Homo sapiens: one gene and its partners. The protein of the gene in region 2 purifies or fractionates together with the protein of the main gene of each other region. This does not show direct contact. Each region holds a gene or a part of one and is shown on either strand. Other genes may lie near its edges.

What was found. Proteins that work in one complex are often made in the same cells at the same time.
Region 1: the proteins of SLC22A16 (region 2) and RAB21 purify together in Homo sapiens (affinity purification with mass spectrometry; 3 studies listed by BioGRID and IntAct, with this or other methods). This does not show direct contact.
Region 3: the proteins of SLC22A16 (region 2) and CHCHD6 purify together in Homo sapiens (co-immunoprecipitation; 3 studies listed by BioGRID and IntAct, with this or other methods). This does not show direct contact.

What each region holds. Positions count from the first base shown.
Region 1 is NC_000012.12:71,778,754-71,786,267, forward strand, and holds part of RAB21 (ras-related protein Rab-21), read left to right. Parts: intron 1-3,277; coding exon 3,278-3,332; intron 3,333-3,816; coding exon 3,817-3,905; intron 3,906-6,777; coding exon 6,778-6,920; 3' UTR 6,921-7,514. UniProt on the Homo sapiens protein: The small GTPases Rab are key regulators of intracellular membrane trafficking, from the formation of transport vesicles to their fusion with membranes.
Region 2 is NC_000006.12:110,473,248-110,481,625, reverse strand, and holds the start of SLC22A16 (solute carrier family 22 member 16), read left to right. Parts: upstream 1-5,012; 5' UTR 5,013-5,051; coding exon 5,052-5,104; intron 5,105-5,173; exon of another isoform or gene 5,174-5,307; coding exon of another isoform or gene 5,308-5,368; intron 5,369-5,963; exon of another isoform or gene 5,964-6,109; intron 6,110-8,216; exon of another isoform or gene 8,217-8,375; coding exon of another isoform or gene 8,376-8,378. UniProt on the Homo sapiens protein: Facilitative organic cation transporter that mediates the transport of carnitine as well as the polyamine spermidine. Mediates the partially Na(+)-dependent bidirectional transport of carnitine.
Region 3 is NC_000003.12:126,728,131-126,735,644, reverse strand, and holds part of CHCHD6 (MICOS complex subunit MIC25), read right to left. Parts: intron 5,085-7,514; coding exon 5,015-5,084; intron 2,568-5,014; coding exon 2,423-2,567; intron 1-2,422. UniProt on the Homo sapiens protein: Component of the MICOS complex, a large protein complex of the mitochondrial inner membrane that plays crucial roles in the maintenance of crista junctions, inner membrane architecture, and formation of contact sites to the outer membrane.

The DNA of each region.
Region 1 (7,514 bases), on a different chromosome or scaffold from region 2:
TAGATTTGGGGTGCAAGGGGGAGATAAGGGAACATTTCCTAGACCAAGTGTTGGATAAACTAAGTTAGCTAGATGAAGCCAGTAGGATGATGGTAGAGTGCGTTACCTGCAAGGCGTGGTGGCTCACCCCTGTAATCCCAGCACTTTGGGAGGCTGAAGCAGGCGGATCATTTGAGGTCAGGAGTAAGTTTGTATTACCTGTCATGGACTTTAATTGTCTTACAACAATATTGACTTTCCATTTGATCATTCACTGTGATGAATGTCATTAATATTAATAACTGTTCCTTATTGAGCATATAGTATATGCTAGGCCTTTTACATATATCTTATTTTCACATCAACCCTGCAAGGTTTGTTAGCGACACATGCGTACAGTGAGACTAACAGAGGTTAACTAATTTGTCCAAAATATTACAGTTATGGCCAGGCGTGGTGACTCTGGCCTTTAATCCGAGCATTTAGGGAGACCAAGGTGGGCAGACTGCTTGAGTCCAGGAGTTTGAGACCAGCCTAGCAACATGGCAAAACCCCATCTCTACAAAAAAATACAAAAATTAGCCAGATGCGGTGGTGTGTGCCTGTAGTCCCACTCGGGGCTGAGGCAGGAGAATCGCTTGAGCCCGGGAGGTGGAGGCTGCAGAGAGCCGTGTTCACGCCACTGCATTCCAACCTGAGTGACAGAGCAAGACCCTGTCTCAAAAAAAGGTAAAACAAAAAAAAAATTACAGTTATGGAGTAAGCAAGGACTTAAAAACAAGTTTTATCACATTTAAAAGCTTTCTGAAAGCTTCTTTCCACTGTGCCCCACAACCATTCAGTCTAAGCATAATATGATTCTAGTTCTATATCATTAGGCCATTTGCCCTTAGCAGTGGACATGCCCCTTCTATGTTCTTAATTCAAATATGTATTTTTAAGGAAGATCTGCTTAACTTAGAGGGTAGCTTTTTCCCTCCCTTTCCAATAGTGTCAGCCTATTTGTTTATGTTTTTAATTCTTTATAGTACTATACTTTTAAGTAGGTGCTTGCTTTGGTTATTGTCCTTGTTTTCAGGTGTTTTAAGCCTATCAGAAAGTTCCGTATGTAGCTGCACAGTAGTATTGAAGCAGATATGAGTCTCAAAGCCTTACTCCTTAGCTGTCTTGCTTTTGAAAAAATATAGAAACTAAAAGGGTTTTTGAGCTTTGGAAAGAGGTCAGTCACTAGCCAGTCAGGTTTCTGCAATGTATTCTGTGCTGTCAATCCATTGTGAACACTGATTATTCAAAGAAATAATAGTTATTTAGATTTAAAATATTTTAAGTTTAAAATAATAGGTTATTAAGATAGCTATTTATTAATGGCCTGATTTATTAAAATTAGTCATTTAAAATATTATCAAATAATAAAGCAGTGTCTGAATTATTTCTCCTAAATGTTCATTTGAGGCAGTAAGGTGATTGCCTGCTTTTCCTCTCTTCACTCTTTTTATAGGTATTGATGATATTGATGGAATTTGGAACATGAGCCATTAAATACCTAGAAAAAAATTCCATAGGGTTTTAGGTAATTGAAGCAAAATTAATATTGCTACTTTTAGTAGGAGACTATCTTATTTTGCCTTTGTGAGGCAGAATCTTTTTCCTGTTTGTTGGAGCCACTGGCCACCAGGTGGTGCTTTTTGCATTCTTTACAGAATAACACGACGGTTTTTCCTCTGGTTACTGTCAGACATTGTCATATTTAGCTAATTAAAATTTCCAATGACAAATATAATGTAGGAAGTTAGAACTAATATGAAACTTCTTGCTGTGGTAGATAGCTGTTCAAAGAAGGAAGAGTTTGTTACTGAATTTGTTGGTATCCACTGAGCTTTAGTGTTGTCTGCTTCCCTCTCTCTGATTCTTAGGCTATGGTGGCAGATAGTTTCTTGCAGTTGCCAGCAACTAGGTTCTCAGATTATTCGAGGTCCTCAGTATATAGAACCTTTGGACTTGTCCACCTCAGTGCTAAACATTTTATCTTTTATTGGGTGCTTATTTCAATGCCTTATCTGAAATTTATCTGAAATTGTCTCCTAGAATCTATATGGTTCCAAGAAAAAAAGTAACCTTATTTATAAGATTTCTCTTTTCTCCCTAAAAGCCATAGTAGAAGAATAAAAATGTTTGTTTGAAGTGTCCTTCCATAGGGTATTTTTCCTTATCGTTATCTACTGTTTTTATTACCTTTAGCACTCTGGGTGTCCAGCCAACTCATCTTAAGTTCAAGGAATCAGTATTTTGCAGTTTCTTCATTTTTGTTCTGATGGCTTTTTTTAAAAGTATAATCCCAGCTTGGTTCTGTTGTTTAAGGAGAGCTAAACTTATAATTTAAATCTGCATGATATACATATATTAAGTTTTAATAACTCACTAAAATTGTTTTTTAAACAAAGAATACAGTTTTTCCGGCCGGGCGCGGTGGCTCAAGCCTGTAATCCTAGCACTTTGGGAGGCCGAGGCAGGCGGATCACGAGGTCAGGAGTTCGAGACCATCCTGGCTAACACAGTGAAACCCCATCTCTACTAAAAATACAAAAAATTAGCCAGGCGTGGTGGCAGGCACCTGTAGTCCCAGCTACTCAGGAGGCTGAGGCAGGAGAATGGCGTGAACCCGGGAGGCGGAGCTTGCAGTGAGCCGAGATGGCGCCACTGCACTCCAGCCTGGGTGACAGAGCGAGACTCCGTCAAAAAAAAAAAAAAAGAGAATACAGTTTTTCCCCTTATGATTGTGGAGTACTTAAAAATCTGTACACTTTAATTTTTACTTTAACTGGTTTATATCATCCAGGAAACCAAAATACTTGTAGGATCCAAGAGGCTAGATTAATATATTTTAGTAAACACTAAGATAGCCATACTTATTGACCGGCTCTAAGTTAATGGGAACTGTAGAAAATTTTGCTCTTACTTTTGATCATTTACACTTGCCTAAGAATCATAGGTTTATCTCTAGGTCTCTGGTATCCCCCAAAATCAAAAAAGAGTGCCTGTCTCTTTGGAAAAGTTGTTTTCTTTGTCAGAGGCTGCAGATTCAGGAAAGGTATGAATTGAGTCATTTGAAGGAGGATGAGGCATGATCAACCCTCAGATCACAAGGCTTAACTTTATAATTTCAAGACATTAGAAGTCTGGTGGGGATTTGCATTATTTTTGCTGGTAATTAAAATGGCAATTTTATATTTAGAATTGGCTTAATTTTGTTATGAAAATAAATCAGTATAAAGATAAATATTTACTTTTTTCAAAATAGGTAATAAAATAGACTTGGAAAAGGAGAGACATGTTTCCATTCAAGAAGCAGAGTCGTAAGTACTGTGACCCTCCCATTCCCCATCACTCCCTAGTAGAAATCTTCCTCTTTATACGTTTTGCTTTACCATTTAGGTATTACTCAAATCTCTTAGCATGGATTGAGGTGTTGGATTCAGTGAAGCATGTTTACATGGTAATTTCTGGGCTTGTGGCAATAAAGCCCTTACTTCCCTTTTTGACTTCAGTGAAAAATACGAGTGATATAAAACAAAACTATCATGATCAAATAGGCAGTAAGCCAGAAAAACTTTTGAAGTATTTGAGTCCCAAATTAATCTATAAAAATTTCGAGGCTTGTTATATTTGTGTTATTTAAAATTTGATTTAATGTATAGAGAATTTAAATAGCTATATAAACTTAATTTCACTAAACTTGAGTAAATTAATATGTCACTAAAACTGTTACTATAAAAAAGCAGTTAAGACAAAATCATGAATAATATTTTACATCAATCACCGATGTTACTTTTTTTTAAGGTATGCAGAATCTGTGGGAGCAAAACATTATCATACTTCAGCCAAACAGAACAAAGGAATTGAGGAACTCTTTCTTGACCTTTGTAAAAGTAGGTATATTCAGATTTAGTTTGTTTAGAAATGGTTTTTGGTTTTTATTTTTTAAAAAATAGTATGTATTTTACACCAGTGTTACTTTTCAAAGAATTGGTTCTTTTTAAACTATTGACTATTGGTAGTATTTCTGAAGTGCTGTAACTATTTTTTTTAATGCTTAAATACCTACTTTAACCCTGTTTCAAGCAGTAATTAATGGTTATGAAATCATAAGTATGGTGTGGGCTAAATATATATTATAATATATGCATAAGTATTAAAAGTGGAAGGGGAATTTACATATTAAAACAGATTTAAGACCTGTAACAACCTCTTGCAATGAATGGACCTTATTTGGACACTGATTTGTCAAACTAGTGAAAAAGAGTGTTTGTGAAACAAGATATTTGATGATATTAAGATACTATTAATTTTTTAGGTGTGATTATGGTATTGTGGTTATGCTTTATAAAAGGAGTTCTTATCTTTTAAAGACACATTAAAATAATTTAGGAATAAAGTTATGGGTCTGAGATTTGACTCAAAATAATGGTAGGGATGCTTAGGGTTATTCATGAAATTGGGTGATGGATTTTCATTATGCTGTATTTTCTACTTTATGTTTGAAATTTTCCATATTAAAAAGTTTATAGTTTTAAAGAAAAAGGAAAATAAATTTATATATATTCTGAAAATCATTTCTTATATTACCAATAAAATGCATATCTGAGTTTATGGACTTTAGACTCTTTTGAGAATTTGATGAAATCATGGTTTTTCTCTCTAGAAAAGAATATTGATATGTGTGTGTGTGTGTACACACACACACACATTTTGGAATAAATTAGTTTTATAAAACCCTCAAGTCATTCATAATTCTTCTAAAATATTGATTATGTAAGTGATGTCCCCTGATCAGCAGCATCAATATCACTTGAAAATATGTCAGAAATGCAAATTCTTGGGCTCTCCAAGCCTGCCGAATCAGAATTTCTAGGGATGGTGCCCAGAATCTGTGTTTTAACAAACGCTTCATATGATTCCAATGCACACTAAAATATAAGAGCCAATGCTGTACATAACAACTTGGGGATCTTATTAAATGCATATTTTGATTTAATAGGTGTGGGATAGATTGAGGTCCTCATTTCTACAAGCACCCAAGTGGTGGTGATGCTAGTCATCAGGATATCCTCCTTCCTTACCTCCCTCCCTCCCTCCCTTCCTTCCTTCTGATAATGCTTTTAAATAACAATGCACTAAGTCAGTGGCTTACAAATGTTATAAATATCACATCTTCAAAACAATTTTTGCATGCTCCACATGTTTATTTAGAAATTATATAACATGTACAAGTACTAATATGTACATTTTAAAACATACCTAAAAAATAGAAATTTTGGAAAGTTAAAAATAAGTAGATATAGAATTTATAATGTTTTCTTATTTCCTCTTGTTGGATTGTCCCACATACCTCAAATTGTAAACCATTAATCAAGAGCAGTCTCTAATTTAAGAGCCCTTTTGTATTTTAAGGACACCCTCTTTTCTTCCTTCATCTTCTCAAATACGTGTTTTGTAAATACTTTCTCTCAGTCTGTGTTGTGTATTCCCATTTTTCTTACCTGTGTCTCTTAAAGTGCAGTTTTAAGTTTCAGTGAGGTCCAGTTTATCTATTTTTCTTTTATGATTCATGTTTTATGTCTTACATGAGAACTCTTTGTGTAAGCCAAAGTCACAAAAATTTTCTCCTATGAAGATTTTTCTCCTGTGTTTTCTTCTGGAAATTTTGTTTCATGTCTTACATTTAAGTGTATAATTCATTTTTCGTTGTTTTTTGCATAAGATGTTAAGGTGTGGGTTAAGGTTGATTTTTTTTTTTTACAATAGATGTCCAGTTCTATTAATACTACTGTTTTTTGAAAATATTCTTTCTTCATTGAATAACCTTGGCAACCATGTCAAAAATCAAGAGACCATATCTACGGGGTCTATTTCTGGACTGTGTTTTTTTGGTTCCACTGATCTATTTCTCCTATCATTGTCTCACTGTTTTGATTAGTGTAGCTTTATACTAGTTCTTGCAATCAGGTGGTGTGAGTCTTTCTGCTGTGTTCTTCGAAGTTCCCTCATCTTAAACTCCATTATTCTTCAAATATCGCTGTGGTCAGGGACAGTGGCTCACACCTATAAGCCCAGTGCTTTATGAGGCCAAGGCCATAGGATCACTTGAGCCCAGGAGTTTGAGACCAGCCTGGGCAACATAGTGAGACCCCCATCTCTAGCAAAAAAAAAAAACTCAGCCAGGCATGGTGTTGCATACCTGTAATTCCAGCTACTCAGGGACTGAGGCAGGAGGATCAACTGAGCCCAGGAGTTAGGGGCTGCAGTGAGTAAGTGATGATCACACCACTGCACATCCAGCCTGGGTATCAAAGCGAGACCCTGTCTCTCAAAACTAAAATAAAAAGAATCATTTACTTAAAAGTATTACATTTCTAGTTGAAGAATAAATCCTGCCCCCTAAATATTACTTGGAATAATTTGAACTTCTTTGACATATTTCTAAGTGTGTTTGGAAAATCTTAAGGATTATACTTGTACGCAGGCAATTGTTCAGAGCAAAAAAATTTTTTTCTTTATTGATATCACTGTGGCCATTATACCACTGGATAAATAAGCTTACTACTTGATACTAGTTTTTGACACTAGTTTTTTAAAACATGCAGGTGAAGCTGTTTTAGTGAGCTGACCCAATGTTCATTATATTTAGTTTCTTTGTTGGTCGAAAGTCAGAAATAGCTATCATAGTGTTATACTGAAATTTTAGAAAGAGAAAACACAAATATTGTGGTCCTAATAATGTTTGCTTTCTCTCTGTCTTAGGGATGATAGAAACAGCACAAGTGGATGAGAGAGCAAAAGGCAATGGCTCTAGTCAGCCGGGAACTGCAAGGCGAGGTGTACAGATTATTGATGATGAACCTCAAGCCCAGACCAGTGGTGGAGGGTGCTGTTCTTCTGGATAACTGTTCACGCCTAAGAAATTAAAAGACAGAACAAAACTGTGGATCATTGCCCTCAACATGAAGACTGCCATATTCCAAGTCACATTATTTTACCAATGGAATTATAGAATTAACAGTATTTTAAATTACGTTTATAACACTGCAGAGACCTTAAGTGCTAAACTTAGTGGAGTTTGTGACCAGAGAATTGGCATTTTCTACAAATGTTTTTTTTTGTTTTTTTTTTGTTTTTTTTTGTTTTTTTTTGAGACGGAGTCTCGCTCTGTCACCCAGGCTGGAGTGCACTGGCTTGATCTCGGCTCACTGCAAGCTCCACCTCCCAGGTTCACGCCATTCTCCTGCCTCAGCCTCCCGAGTAGCTGGGACTATAGGCGCCCACCACGACGCCCGGCTAATTTTTTGTATTTTTAGTAGAGACGGGGTTTCACCAGGTTAGCCAGGATGGTCTCGATCTCCTGACCTTGTGATCCGCCCGCCTCGGCCTCCCAAAGTGCTGGGATTACAGGCGTGAGCCACCGTGCCCGGCCTACAAATGTTAACAAAGCAATTACCAATGGCCTTTTTACATATTTTTTCTTTAATGAGGAATAATAT
Region 2 (8,378 bases):
ATGTGGGGACATTAGAACTTTTATACTCTCTTGAGTGGAAGGTAAATTGTTATAATCACTTTAGAAAGCAATTTGGCAATATTTAATATTTTAAGTTTTTCTAAGCAGTTTTCCAGGGGTTGTTGTGTTATAGGGTATACATATAACACAGCAACTCCTGGAGATATACCTTAGAAAAACTCACAAATATGTACAGAGGGACAGTTTATAGCAATGGTGCTGTAGTAAGATTTTGGCTATAACCTGCCTGTCCATCAATAAGAAAATGATTAAGTAAATTGTGGTTTATTGAGACAATGGAATACTATGTAGCAATGAAAAAGAATGGATTAGAGCTGCATGTATCAATATGGATGAATTTCACAAACAGATGTTCAAGGGAAAGAGCAAGTTGCACAATACATGTTCATACCTAGTTTTCAGTTTACAGATCTTGCACATTTTTGTCAGATTTATCCCTAAGTATATTTTAAGTGTTATTGAAAATGGTATTTTAGGCTGGGCCTGGTGGCTCATGCCTGTAATCCCAGCATGGCTTTGGGAGGCTGAGATAGGAGGATTGCTTGAGCCTAGGAGTTCAAGATCAGCCTAGGCAACATAGTGAGACCTCCACTTTACAAAAGAAATAAAAATAGCCAAGCATAGTGGATCATGCCTGTAATCCTATCATTTAGGGAAGCAAAGGTGGGGTATAGCTTAAGCCCAGGAGTTTGAGACCTGCCTGGGCAATATAGCGAGACCGTGTTCTCTACAAAAGAGGGGAAAAAAGAAAAAATAAATAAAAATTTACAAAATTAGCTGGGCATGGTGGTGCATGCCTGAAGTCACAAATACTCAGGAGGCTGAGGTGGGAGGATCACTTGAGCCCAGGAGGTTGAGGCTGCAGTGGACTATGATCATTCCACTGCAGTCCGGCCTGGACAACACAGTAAGACCCTATATCAAAAAAAAAAAAAAAAAAAAGAAGAAAACAGTATTTAAAAAATTCCAATTTCTAATTGTTCCTTACTAGTATATAGAAATACAGTAGACTGTTGTATATTAATCTTATATCCTGTAACTTTGCTAAAATCACTTATTCTAGTAGCTATTAAAAATAGATTCCATCAGATTTTCTCTATATTTGACCATGTCATCTGTGAATAAACACAGTTTTATTTCTTCCTTTTCAATCTGAATGCCTTTTTTTCCACCTAATGCTCTGGTTAGAACCCCCCATACAAAGCTGAATAGAAGCAGTGAGAACAGACATCTTTGTCTAGTTCCCAATCTTAGGGAGAAAACATACAGTCTTTCACATGAAGTATACTGTTAGCTATGGGTTGTTTTTTGGAGATGCCCTTTATGAGATGGATGTAATTCCCTTCTATTCTTAGTTTGTTCAGTGTTTTTATTATGAAAAGGTGTTGGCTTCTCCCAAATGTGTTTTTTGCATTGACTGGGATAATCATGTTTTTTCATATGGTCTGTTAGTATGGTAAATTATATTGCTTGATTTTCAGATGTTAAATCACTCTTGCATTCTTGTGATAAATCTCATGTGCTCATGATGTACTTGTCCTTTTAAATATAAAGAGACATCCAATTTGCTAAAGTTTTGTTGAGAATTATTGCATCTATGTTCATATAGGTATATTGGTGTATAGTTTTCTTGCCTTGTAAGGTCTTTACCTGGTTTTGATGTCAGAGTAATGCTGGACCATTCAGTGATTTGGGACGTATTCACTCATCTTCAACTTCCTTGAACAGTTTGTGCAGAATCAATATTATTTCTACCTTAAATGTCTGACTCTGGGGCTTTCTTTCTTTTCTTTTTCTTTTTTCTTTTTTTTGAGGCAGGGTCTCACTGTGTCACCCAGGCTGGAGTGCAGTGGCCCAGTCACGGCTCACTGCAGCTTCGACCTTCCAGGCTCAAGTAATCCTCCCACCTCAGCCTCCCAAGTAGCTAGGATAACAGGCGTGCACCATGATGCCTGGCCAAATGTTTTGCATTTTTTATAGAGATGAGGTTTCACCATGTTGCCCAGGCTGGTCTCAAACTCCTTGACTCAGGCGATCCTCCTGCCTCAGCCTCCTAAAGTGTTAGGACTACAGGTGTGAGCCACTGCACGTGGCCAACCCTGGGGTTTTCTTTGTGGAAACATGTGTTAGTCTATTTGCATTGCTATAAAGGAATACCTGAGACTGGATAATTTATAAAGAAAGGAGATTTATTTGGCTCATGGTTCTGTAGGCTGTACATGAAGCATAGTGCCAGCATCTGCTTCTGTTGAGGGCCTCAGGAAGCTTCCAGTCATGGCAGAAGATGAAGCGGTCCCTGAATCACATGGTGAGAGAAGGAACAAGAGAGAAGGAGGAGGAAGTTCCAGACTCTTTCAAACAACCAGATATTGTGTGAACTCATAACTGAGAATTCACTCATTACTGGGGAGGATGGCACCAAGACATTCATGAAGGATCCATGATCCAAACCCCTCCCACCAGGCCCCACCTCCAACATTAGGGACTACATTTCAACACGAGATTTGGAGAGGACAAACATCCAAACTATATCAGAAGGTTTTTAATTGCATATTCAATTTCTTTAATAGATGTAGGCCTATTTTGGTTATCTATTTCTTCTTGAGTGTTGTTAGATTGTATTTTTCAGTAATTTGTCCATTTTATCCATATTGTGACATTTCTATCTGGTGTAATAAGAATAGTGTTCATATCAAAGTTCAATTTCTCCATATCTTTTCCAGGTAACTCTCCCTTTGGTGCTTTGAAGCAATATGGCGTCTTGACTGGCTGCCATGGCCCCCACCTTTCCTCCTAGGCTCAGCCCTTGACATAACTACTCCTCACTACCCTCTCATCTTCCCCCCACCTTGTATCCCTCTAGCATTCCTCACCTGAAGAACTTAGGCTTTCTTAAGTCTCTTTAGTTAGCAGGAAACTATCTAATTTAAAAACCCTCTCCAAGTTGTTTATTACTTAAGGGATTAGTCCTTCCAAGAGTATTTATGTTTCAGAAGAGAATGTCTAGATAGGATTGTGCATAACAAAAATAAGTCAATTTTTAATGGTGTTATTGTAGGCTCTGTGACAAGTAGGGGAGGGAAGCACTTTGGGAAATGGACTCTCCTCTCTTTCAAATATTATTCAAGTACAAGTTTGCGCCTGTTACTCTTCTGCTTTAAGACTGTCTACAGGGAGTTCTCCTTGTCCTTTGGTCAAAGTAAAATGTTCAACACAGCCTTGCAAGATCCTGCCGCTTCTCGGAGCCATCAGACCCACTCTTGATGCTCTGCTCTGGTAGAGCTCTGCCCTGGCCCTCAAACTGTTGGACTTCTCTGAGAAAGCGATAGGTGTGCTCAGATTTTAAGGATGAGGTGGAGAAGTTCAGAGAGAGGGCATTTGCTATGGAACTGAGGCTACCAAAGTGACGAAGAGAATGCATCCCTGTTCTCTAGGAACTCAAGGTTTAGTGGCCTTATAGAGTGGAATAGCACGCCAACAGTGGGGCCAGTGACTGCCAGGCTGACTAGAGAAGGCAACTCTCACTGTGGATATAGTCGGAAACTGGCTTTTCTGCTTCAGCGCTGTGGACCAGCAATTGACCTTTCTTCCCTAAAGTTCATTCACTTGATACCTTCCAGAAGGAAGGTCACCCCCTGCCTGGGTTGGCTATGGGCCAAACCCCTGCCCACTCCAAAGTGTGGCTTGGAATGCCATGGTCTGCTTATTAAAAATCAGATTTCGGGAGGCCAAGGCGGTCGGATCACGACGTCAGGAAATCGAAATCATCCTGGCTAACACGGTGAAACCCCGTCTCTACTAAAAATACAAAATATTAGCCGGACGTGGTGGCGGGCACCTCCCCGCTACTTGGGAGGCTGAGGCAGGAGAATGGTTTGAACCCGGGAGGTGGAGCTTGCAGTGAGCCGAGATTGCACCACTGCACTCCAGCCTGGGCGACAGAGCGAGACTCCGTCTCAAAAAAAAAAAAAAAAAAAAAAAAAAAAAAAAAAAAAAAAATCAGATTCCTGTTCCCCAGGCATCCTGAATCATCAGGGATGGAGTCTCAAAATAAATGTACATTTATTTATTTTTTATTTTTGTATAGACGAGGTGTCGCTATACGTTGCCCAGGCTGGTCTCAAACTCCTTGGCTCCAGCAATCCTCCTGCCTCGGCCTCCCAAAGCACTGGGATTATAGGCCTGAGCCACCACGCCGGCCTAATTGTACTTTTATTTTTTTGAGACGGAGTTTCACTCTTGTTCCTCAGGCTGGAGTGCAATGGCACGATCTTGGCTCACCGCAACCTCCGTCTCCAGGGTTCAAGCGATTCTTCTGCCTCAGCCTCCCGAGTAGCTGGGATTACAGGCATGTGCCACCACGCCCGGCTAATTTTGTATTTTTAGTGGAGACGGGGTTTCTCCATGTTGGTCAGGCTAGTCTTGAACTCCCGACCTCAGGTGATCCGCCCGCCTCGGCCTCCCAAAGTGCTGGGATTACAGGCGTGAGCAAGTGCGCCCGGCCTTAAATGTACCTTTTAAACCAAGTTCTGCAGTAGATTCTTAGGCATTAAAGTTTGAGAGCCATGTTTCTGAGGGGCGTCATGCTGAAGGCTATATATTCTTGCGGCCCCCGGACCGAGCCTAGCCCTTGCATTCCCACCCTGGGCTCTCTCTCAGCGACAACTTTTCCCAGGCGTCGGGGCTTCCCTCGAGCGTGGCGACCCCGCAGACATGGTGCCAAGAGCCAGGGTGGGCGGCGGGGCGGGTGGGAGAGCGGCGGCGCTGGGGGCGAGGGCACCATGCGACCGCGGGCGCCGGGACCACAGCGCGCCGGGAAGGAGGCCGAGGCGGCAGGAAAAAAGCCGAAGATACTTGGGGGGACCGAGGGGCCAAGCGACGGAGGGAGGAACAGAATACAGCCTCGCGCTGGTCCCGAGCACTGGGACGCGCGGGGAGAGCAGGAGGCCGGGCGGGGAGGTTCGGGGCGGGGCGCGCTACCCGCAGTCCCCGGAGCTCGGCTAACTCGGCGCCCAGTGCACGGCCGCACCATGGGGTCCCGCCACTTCGAGGGGATTTATGACCACGTGGGGCACTTCGGCAGGTATGGGGGAGGGGCCCCGCGGCGCCACGCGGGAGGCGGCGCCGAGGGGTCTGTTTCTTTCCGTTGCGGCGGGGTTCTCGCGCGGCGCTCGCGATCCGAAAACATCTCCACTTCCTCCTCACCCCGCGCAGTCGGGACACGGGCGTCCAGACGCCGGCCCCTAGCTGGGCTTCTCCTCTAGGCCTCTGGCAGCGGGACCTGGCATGGTGAGCAGAGGCGCTGGGCTCGCTCGGAGTGCGCCTGTTGCCGGGCAGGAGGGACCTGGTGCGTGCTCTCCGCGGCAGCAGATGCTGGAGGCATCTGGCTGGAGATCTGGCTCGAGGGGCCAGATCTCACTCGTAGGGGGTGCCTGTGCCTGGCCGCCCGTTTCTCTAATCCGCCGCCACTTCCCTAGACGGCTGCTGCCCAGTTCTGCCCTGCGCCTCCGTAGGGCCTCCCTCTGTGCCTGGCAGGTGTTCCCCAGGGACAACCGTTAGTCAGAGTTGGTTGCCGTTTATTAAAACCTAATACGTGCCAGGTACACTGTACCTGGCGCTTACACATAGTTCTTCATTTGATGTTCACCGGGACCCTGCAAAGGAGGTGTTCAAATCCTTATTTTAGTGATTGGGAAACAAGCTGGCGGGGTCAAGGACTCATAGCCAACGCATGGTGGAACCACGTTTAACCTCCGTACACCCTCTTTTCATTTGTCAAATTGATTTAAAAAATTTAAATTATTCATTCGTTCGTTCACTCATGGACAGAGCTCCTCTATCTGACTCAGAGTGTTTTGAGAGGGGAGGTAGCCGGGTGAGGGGCCATGCAGCGTTATGGCCGGAGATTTGGAGCTGCGTCTCGATCCTGGCCTGCTACTTACCTCTGATATGATTCTGGAGATACTTTGTGTGTCAGTTTCCTATCCAGAAAACGGGAATCAGGCTTAGCAAAGAGATGATGTGGTGCTGTTCTTCAAGGTGGAAGGTTGCATGCGTTTTGGTTTTGATTCCCAGTGTCTGCAAAAAGGAGCTGTTAGGACAGAGGAAACGGGCAGGAAGCCCCAGCTGTTCCCTTCTTCCTCTGCTTGCATCATTGAACGCTGCCTTGTGCCTGGCTCGGTCATAAGCCGTTGGTACATGTTACTTCCTTTAATCTTCACTACAGCCTTATAAGGTTGGTAGTATCACCCTCTTTTCACAGATGAGAAAACCAAGGTTTCTGCCTAAGCACAAATCTAATACTAGCAGGGCAGAATTGGATGCCATTGGATGCCCATCACCTCCACAGCCCACACTCTCAACCATGATGCACTCCTGAGCACGGTTAGGTGACGGCTCCTCAGCTGGGCCAAGCTCTTTATGTATGATCTCATTTCATCCTTCTGGAAGCAGAATAGCACAGAGGTTAAAAGATCAGTTTTAAGGCTGGATGTCTAAGTTCCCACTCTGGCGCTACCACACATTAACTATACGGTCTTGAGCATTTTATTTACCACTTTCTTATCTGTAAAATGGGGCTAATAATAGTACAAATGTTTTCAAATAGGAGTAGTGAAAATGTGTATATGAGGACTCTGCATGCAGTTTCTCATCCTTACAGTAACTCAATGAGGTAGGTGGTACTTACATCTTAGTTCCCCTGTGTTTTTTAGGGATTAGCTGAGGTAATTATATTAGTTGGTGTTTGACTAAAGTGCCCAATCAAACAGATTCCTCAAATGGAAGTTTATGCCTCTCCAGTAACTGCCCACAGCAGGATCTGTGCCACGAGACCATTCAAGGACCCTGGCAGGTGGGACAGCTCTGTCATCCACTGCATGGGGCTCCCTGTCTGTGCCTGGAGCAGCTGCGCACCCATGGTGACAGCTCACTACGGTGAAGAGGGGGCAAATGGGTTTGAGGAGACAGCTCTTAGCTGGCCACCATAATGTATGCAAAAGTCTTATTATTCAGTAAGTTCTCAATAAGTCATGGCTATTATCATTACCTGAGTTCCCATATTGGTGGTCAGGGTTGACTCGTGAAAGCAGCTTACAGGAGGGAAAAGGGTAACAAACCACTGCTTATATAGCAGAAGATGAAGACTGTGTGACTGCAACACAGTACCACATTTTTCTCAGGTATTTGTTCTAATTGGTATCTATTCTTTATAAACAGAAAGGAAAGTTATTGTGATGATTATTTAGTCCTCTCTTTAAGGGATCCTAGTGAAAGTGTTAAGTAGAGCAGTGGTCCCCAACCTTTTTAGCACCAGGGACTGGTTTTGTGGAAGACATTTTTTCCACAGACCTGGTCCCTAACCTTTTTAGCACCAGGGACTGGTTTCGTGGAAGATATTTTTTCCACAGACCTGTGGTGGGGTCGGGAGGATGGTTTCAGGATGGAACTGTTTCACCTCAGATCATCAGGCATTAGATTCTCATAAGGAGCACTCAGCCTAGATCCCTCGCATGTGCAGTTCACAATGGGGTTCACGTTCCTATGAGAATCTAATGCCGCCGCTGATCTGACAGGAGGTGGAGCTTAGGAAGTAATGCTCGCTGGCCGCTGCTCACCTCCTGCTGTGTGGTCCAGTTTCTAACAGGCCATGGACCAGTCTGGTCTATGGCCTGGGGCTTTGGGACCCCTACAGTAGAGAACCCTGATTACCTCTCATTTCTCATTGGTCATTTCTAGAATAAGGAAGCACTATTCTAGTCACCTTTAAAAGGGGAAAACAGGCCAGGTGCGGTGGTTCATGCCTGTAATCCCAGCACTTTGGGAGGCTGAGGCAGGCAGATCACGAGGTCGGGAGCTCGAGACCATCCTGGCTAATGTAGTGAAACCAAGTCTCCACTAAAAATACAAAAAAATGAGCCTGGCATGGTGGCGGGGGCCTGTGGTCCCAGCTACTTGGGAGGCTGAGGCAGGAGAATGGCGTGAACCCAGGAGGCAGAGCTTGCAGTGAGCCGAGATTGCGCCACTGCACTCCAGCCCGGGCGACAGAACGAGATTCCGTCTCAAAAAAAAAAAAAAAAAAAAAAAAAAAAAAAAAAAAAAAAAAAAAAAAAAAGGGAAAACAGGATACCTGAGAAGAACTAAAATACCATTCCAGGATTTCTCCTGAAACCATATCGTTTCCATAAACTTCACAGCTTAAGCTCCATATGAAAAGAAATTGAGAAGACTGAAATTTAGGCACCTGTGTTGGGAGGATCTGAACCTGGATCCCTGAGTTAGTTGTCCTGGGTTAAGAGGAGAGACGGTTTAAAAGTTTAGAGTTGGAATGTGGAGCCTGTGGCAGACCTTCATCAATG
Region 3 (7,514 bases), on a different chromosome or scaffold from region 2:
ATACTCACTCAAAACTGAAGGTCCTCAGGCATGAGGTGCAAGCTGGCTAAGCTTGCACTGTGCCCAGATCCAGCTTCCACAGAGGAATTACAATCCCACCAAGTCTACACACAGCAGGAAACAGGAACACTCCCAAAAGGAAACTGGAACACCAGTTGCATTGAGAAATGAACGCTGAGCAGTCAGAAAATGAGAATGCCCATGAAAGTAGTTAAATGTTTTTAAAATGAAGGAAGTAACTTATGTCACTATTCCCTAAGAATTCTGGCTCAGAAAAGGGGATTATTATCCATCTAGAGACCTGAGGGGGATGGGAATCAAGTTCTTCCCCAAGGGATAGTCCTGAGAAAGCGGCGCTCAATCTCCTTTGCAGGAGTAAGAATGGGAAGCTGTGAATTCTTTCACTGTAATTAATACATTCCAGGTGAGAACGAAGAGACAGCAGACCTGTAGGTTGTAATCTTCCACCTCTAGAGGAGGCCAACTTTTCCTGCTCATGCCATACTGATTAACGCGTCATCTCCAGGATAGGGGTCCTTCTTACTTGGTTGTCAGGCTGCCTGCAGAGGGGTAACAACCCATCTGCCTCTCAGAGACTGACTGCAAGAGCCTCTGAAGGCATGCCCTGGCCCCGGTTTCTCACTGCATCAACCGATTCCTCACCAGGATGCCATGGGGTTCTAAAAGCACAAGTCAGATCTCATCACTCCCATCCTTACAAACTTCAGGAACCATTGACTGTTTCAGGATCGATGCGGGCTACTTTGAGGGTTAACTCCTCAGCACATCCAAGGCCTTCTAAAATCCAGCTTCAAACCTCACTCTTCTCACTGGATCCGATCACCTTCTCAACACCTGCCTCTCAGCCCAACTGCCCCTCAGCCTTAAGGCTGAGTTTAATGCCGTCTCTGATCTACCAGCTCTGATCCACCAGCAGCTTATACATTTGCATTTCCAAATCTTTTCTTCAATTTAACAACTACTGTAACCAATCTGGCCTTTTTCAAAGTTCTTAGTTTGTCTTCTCCACAGACTAAAACTTCCCGAGGGCTAGGATCCTACATTGTTTGTATTTCCCAGAGGGCCTGGTTCAAAGTGCATTTATGTGCCTACTGCACACTTCAAACATTTGTGTAGTCATCAAATTAGTAAGCTAAGGCCTGTGCCCAGCCAGCATGTCTGGCCTCCCAGGAGAGCACAATCCCAAATGATGCTTTCACATCGTGTTCAACCCCCTTCTACACAGCACCGTGTGTACGAGGCTACCCACCTAAAGTAGTGCAAGGCTGTTCCTGGTCTCAAACCTCATGGCCTCCAGCAGATGTTATTAGATGCCGCCCACAGCCATGCTTCCCTCCCCCAACTTCCTTGCTGTCAGTCCTAATTCTAGCTGGATATGCAACCTCCCTAATGTGACTAGAAAAGAGCCCTAGCTGCAGTCAGTGGAGCCCTCTGTATCCCCTCTGCTGAGGACTGGCTTAGCCATGGGCACCTGGTACAATTCAAGCCAGTGTGATGTAAGAGGAATTCTGCCAGGAGCTTCTAGGAAAGTTATCCCTGTGATAGAGACACAAGGGTCGGCACAGCCTCTCTTCTTCTACTGAGGGTTTTACTGTCTGCATGGGACTTGTGGGGCAGTAACAGCCTTCATTAACCATGGGGACAGCCTGCCTAGGATGCACTGGCACACTGTGGATGGCAGAGTGGCAGGAAGAGAAGCACCAGGTCCATGATGATGCTAGTGAGCCACTGAATTAGTCAACCCTGGGGGCACTTGAGACTTCTCATGTTGCAAAATAAATGCTGCACTTAAGCAAAAAGATCCTAATAGCCACCCATCACTTAAATGTATTAATGATAACAACAATAGTGCACTCCCATGGTCTGCCAGCATGTGCTAAGTCCTGGACAAATACTATCTCCTCTGATTCCCTGGGCAGTCCTGTGTGTAAACATCACGAACTTCAAGCAAGACTCACAGACAGGGTGTCCAGGATTTGCACCCAACCTGCCTAACTCTAAAGATGATGCCCTCCCTGTCATATATTACATGGCTCCAGGCCTCTAGTCCTCTGCCCTCACACGCTCCTGACACACATACCACTGCAGCCCTGACATCTGTGAAGTTTCAGAGCTAAGTGAGACTGTTGAGTGGTCTGGTCCCTTACTGTGTAGACCTGAGGCCACAGAGACTGCAAAAACATGCCAAAGGCAGCAAAGCAAATCACTGACAGAGCCAGGGCTGGGAGAACCCCAGTTCCTGGCTCCCAAAAGACCCTTTTCCACAGAGGTGAAGCCGAGCACATCCCAGGGGCAGCCTGAGCCAGCAGGGCTTCAGACTAACCAGGTGCCAGGGCCCGCCCCCTATTTCCCAGGGTGCTGCCCAGCTCAGAAGGCCAGATCAGGGAAAATCTGCACTCACCAGCCGGACTGACTTCTGCTCCTCATGGCTGATGCTGCCTTCGCCCGTGGGCAGGGATGCCTTGGAGTGCTTGGTGGCAGCCTCTCTTTCCCTCTTTGCCACCTGGAAGAGCTTATCCTGGATAGCAGCATGCTCCTGTTCATACCTGTGCAGAAGAAACATGAGGAGAAACAGATGTGGATGGCATGACGGGCAGCCCATAGCCAAGACAAGATCTGCGCACTCACTTCAGCCACCAGGGAAATGCTGAAACCAGCCAGCGGCTGGTCAGGAAAGGAGAGAGTGCTGTGAAACCGCATGCCCCATCATTCCACACCCAAGCTCAGGCATCAGTGACAGCTCCCCAGACAAGAGGAGACAATGACACTGAGCCAAGACAACACAGCTCAGGAACAGGAGGAGACCTGGCCAAGTAGGCAGCCCCATGCCCAGTGAGAGTCTCAGGGAGGGGCTCAATCCACGGATTGCCTCCACTTGAGAGCTTGAAGATTTGAGATGGTAGTAGTCCTCTGTTTTGAACATTTAACTCTTCATTCTGAATATCTTCCTACCCTTTGACCTATTTCTGGGCATTCTGCCTAGTAAAATAATCCTATAGAGAATAAAAAAGTTATTAGTGCTGAGATGCTCTTAACAGTATTATTTATTGTAGTGAAAAAAATGCAAGCAACCTAAATGTCCCAAAATCAAGGTCAAGCTAAAGAAAATATGGTGTGATCATATAATGATCTATGACATCATCACTAGAAAATAGTCTTTCATTTGTCTGTAGGTTGAATCTAAAAACTGAGAACCAATAAATGCTTTTAGCAATAAAACTGCTTATAAAGCAGGTGCAACTAATGACAAATCATTATAATACTAAGTGAAAATAGCAAGATATGAAATTATCTATGACATTCAAAAAATAACCCTAAACGGGGGGTGAGGGGACTGGGTGGAGAAGAACATGAAATACTCCAAAATATTAACAGTGGTTGTCTTGAGATGATGAGTCTATGGGTGATTTTTTCACTTTGTATATTTTCTAAATCTTTCATTAGCAGGCATTACTTTACCATTTTTAAAATGTTTAAAAGTACCAAAAAAGCAGGGTTCAGGTTAATAGTTGGCTTTTTTTCCTCTTTTTTTTTTTTTTTTTTTTGGTTTTGGGTCTCACAATGTGGTCCAGGCTGGAGTGCAGTGGTGCAATCATAACTCACTGTAAACTCCAACTTCTGGGCTCAAGCAATCCTCCCACCTCAGCCTCTTGAGCAGCTGGGACTACAGGCATGTGTTACTACCCCCCAGTTAACGTTTTTAATTTTTTTGTAGAGACAGGGTCTCACTATGTTGCCCAGACTGGGCTCAAACTCCTGACTTCAAGCAATCCTCCTGCTTTAGCCTCCTAAATTCACTGGGATTACAGGATTGAGCCACCACACCTGGCCAGGTGAGTTATTCTTGCTAAGACCGATTAGGGAGAGTAAATCTTAGAATGTGGGTCTTAACCCATGGCTATGCAACAGACCCAACATGGCTGAACTACTAGAGGGCAAACGCCCAACCATGGCTGACACTGGGCCCCCTAAGCTGACCCACTGGGTCCTCTGACCATACTGAGGGCAATTTCCTCAAGGATGCTGAAGAGGTCAATCAGTAACAACTACTGTGAGCATCCACTGAGAACTCTGTAGGCCAGGTGCTGTGCTCATGTGCATGATATATATAAACATATTTAACCATGACAAGATCCCAATTAAAGAAGTACTCTTCTTAGCCCTTCTTAGATGCAGTGATATTTCAAGTTCACATAACTAGTAAGTTGCAGGATCAAGATGCCACCCTGTGCTCCACTGGGGCCTCTGTGCCTTAACCACTTTGCTAAAACTTCTCCGGCGACAGGAAGCAGGTCCCATGACAGAGGTGTGGCCAGCTCTTGGGGTCGTGGCCTGTGCTCACAAAGTTACCAACATCCTGGAGCCAGTTCATCTGGACAACCACAGTTAGCACTGGGAGGGCTCCACTTCCTCATCTCTCTAAAAACATGCCTGCATGTGCACACACATGCAGAAGTTCCAGCCACTCAACTGTTTAGTCCTAGCTTTTTTAAATGATTTTTTTTTTTTTTTTTTTTTTTTTTTTAGAGACAGGGTCACCAAGGCTGGAGTTCAGTGGTGCAATCACAGCTCCCTGCAGCCTCAGCTTCCTGAACTCAAGTGATTCTTCCACCTCAGCCTCCCGAGTAACTGGGACTACACAGGCACACACCACCACCCCCAGCTAATTTTTTATCTTTTAGAGACAGGGTCTTGCTATGTTGCCCAGGCTGGTCTCAAACTCCTGGCCTCAAGCAACCCTCCTGCCTTGGCCTCTCAAACTGCTGGGCATGAGGAACATTAACAATCAATTCCCCTATGCCCCTTTTGGTGTTTCTACATCTTTAAACTAGGACCAGTGATACCTATACCATAGGGTTGTCCTTCAATGCAACTGAGATTAATTATGTGAGACAAAGCCTCCAGGGCTTCAGGCAAGGAGAGGGGTACCCAGTGAGGAAAGAGGCTTTTAGGCGGAGCGCAGTGCCGGGAGCAAGCAGGCTCTCGGGCTCACCTCTTGACACCCTCCTTCATCCCTGAGGGCTGCTGGCCACCACTGCTCCCCGACCTGGGCAGTGTGGATTCTGCAAAGGAAAGAGAAGAAAGGGCCTGTCAGTGGCACCCCAGGGTCCACGAAGTCACAGAGGTCACCCAGAGAGGAATGACCCCCATGAATGAATGTGCCCCTTGGAAGGCAGCATCACAGATGTGTCCCCACAAAGGAGCGTCCACAGGGGCAGACAAGGAACACCCTTGATTCAAGCTGTCTGGAAAGCCAGATGATCCAAGCCACCTCTTATCCCGAAGGGGTCTCTGCACCAGGATGCCCACAACACTGGGTGCAGTGTTCCAAACCCATCCCTACTCTCCTGACAATTATTTGGAATCCAGGTCATCTCCTAAGCACAGGCCAGGAGTGGCTGCGGGAAGGTATTGCTTTGCTTCATGAGGACAACCTCCCGGGTAGAGGTTTTGGCATAGGGAAGGGAAGGGGTGGGGGCTCTTTAAATCTTGTTTCCCTTAGTACCCACCTGAGTCTGCACAATCCTCACTGTGGCAAATGCCCCATATTAAACCTAATTCTACTTAACCACTATCGCCTTTAGTATTATTGGGCTCTTTTTGTTGTTACAGTAGGTCCCTTTTGATCATCACGAATTTCGGGATTTCTGAGCAAATCCAATTCACTCTCCCCACCACTTGCTGATACTGAAGGTTTTGTTACTACCCTGTCCCCAGCCTTTACCCTTCCAAAGCTCTCTGTCAGCCAAAGCTCACCACCTTTCTTGGCCTTCTCCGATGTCCCACACCTCCCTCCACCACAGGGTTCTATGCACCAGCAGCCAGAACCACATAGAGCATAACATAAGAACCAGGCTGTGTGAGGCGCTCAATGAGGGTGTGCGACTCCACCCCAGACCCGTCAGGGATCCTTCGGGGGGCACTTCTGAAAGCATCAGCTGTGACTACTCGCACTTTCAAACCACCTCTCATGGGAGGAGAGCACCTCCCATGCTCCTCAGCAACACACCAGGTTCTCAACTGAGGTGAACTCAGGAGCCTGCTGCGGGGTTTCATCTCCACACTAGTGCTCGCCATGCTTATTTATTTGTCTGAAGAGCTTTACTGAGGTTTAATGTCTGGTATTTTTGCTTTTTATATAATTTTCCATTTTTTAACTACAAAAATAACGGGGCTGCCAATGTAGAGCATGTGGCACTCATCCTCACTGCCCTTTCTGTGTGCCCCTGCCCGCTCCCCGCTCCCTTGGAGTGCACATTGTTGAACATGTGTTTCTTTCAGTATTAGTGACGTGGAGATCCTGTCATGAGTATGGCCATCTGTGCACATTTCCTACTGAGTTGTCTTTCTTAAAGATCTTTAAGAACTCGCTACATATTAAGATTACTAGGACTTTGTCAAATGTTATATTTTCCCTAACTTATCCATTCCTGTTACTTCTTTTCTAAATTGTCTAATTTCTTATATTCACATTTCCTATTTTTTTTAATTTAAGGTTTCTTCGTTTAATATGACGTGTAGAAAATCTATCTTCTATTGTACTTTCATGGCTTCAAGCCATACATTTCAATCTTTTATTTCCTCTGACATTTTTGGGGGGTATAGTATGAGAAGAATTTAATTTTAATTTCTTTTTCTAACTTTGTTCCATCACTAAAATAAAGCAAAAACTGGTTTTAAAAGTACAAAATATCTTAAAATTAGTTAACTTTAAGACAGTCCATTTATGCTGACTCTTCAACATTCAGAAACAAAACTTACACCTATCATTTAAACAGCAAAGTACTTTGTTATAATTAACTCCAAGTGACAAAAGAACCACTGTTCTTGCTTTCTAAACTGCTGGAACTTACCAAACTGAAGCAAATGCTTCTTATTTCTTCTAAAGCTGAAACTGATGTGTAGTATTATATATTATGGCAATTTTCGCTTTTATCATCACTTTCTCCCTCTTTCGAGTTAATCCAGTTTGTTAAAGTGCATTGGGTCAAGTTAGACTCCTCTTAAGCCCTTCTCATCAGTTAGTTAGAGCCAGCGTGGGGAGTAAGTGAGCCCTATTAGTAAAGGACAAGGGCTTCTTGGAGGGTTTTCGGGAATCTCACACATCCCCTACAGTGGTAGATATTCAGAAAGATCTTGGGGTGGGTCCAAATCCAGGTGCTGACTGGCTCCTGGGCAATGCTTCTAGGCCCCCGAGCAGGCTGGGATGCACCCTGTCGCCGGACCTCCGCTCCTGCAATCTGCCCATTCGCAGTGCCCACCCACCACCATTCCTCCTGCCTTTCACAGTCCCTCTTCTCCCGTGAGCCTGGTACAGATTCCAGTGTTGCATCACAACATGACACATAACTCATCAGTCTCCATAACCAGAGCCAGGTGTGCCATGAGAGAGGGTCCCTGCCCACCTATCACTGTGTCTTGGCACAGGGCACAGGACTTGGTTCTGGGTGGCCTTCAGTAAACACTAAGTGGGCAGGATACAGCTCTCATAT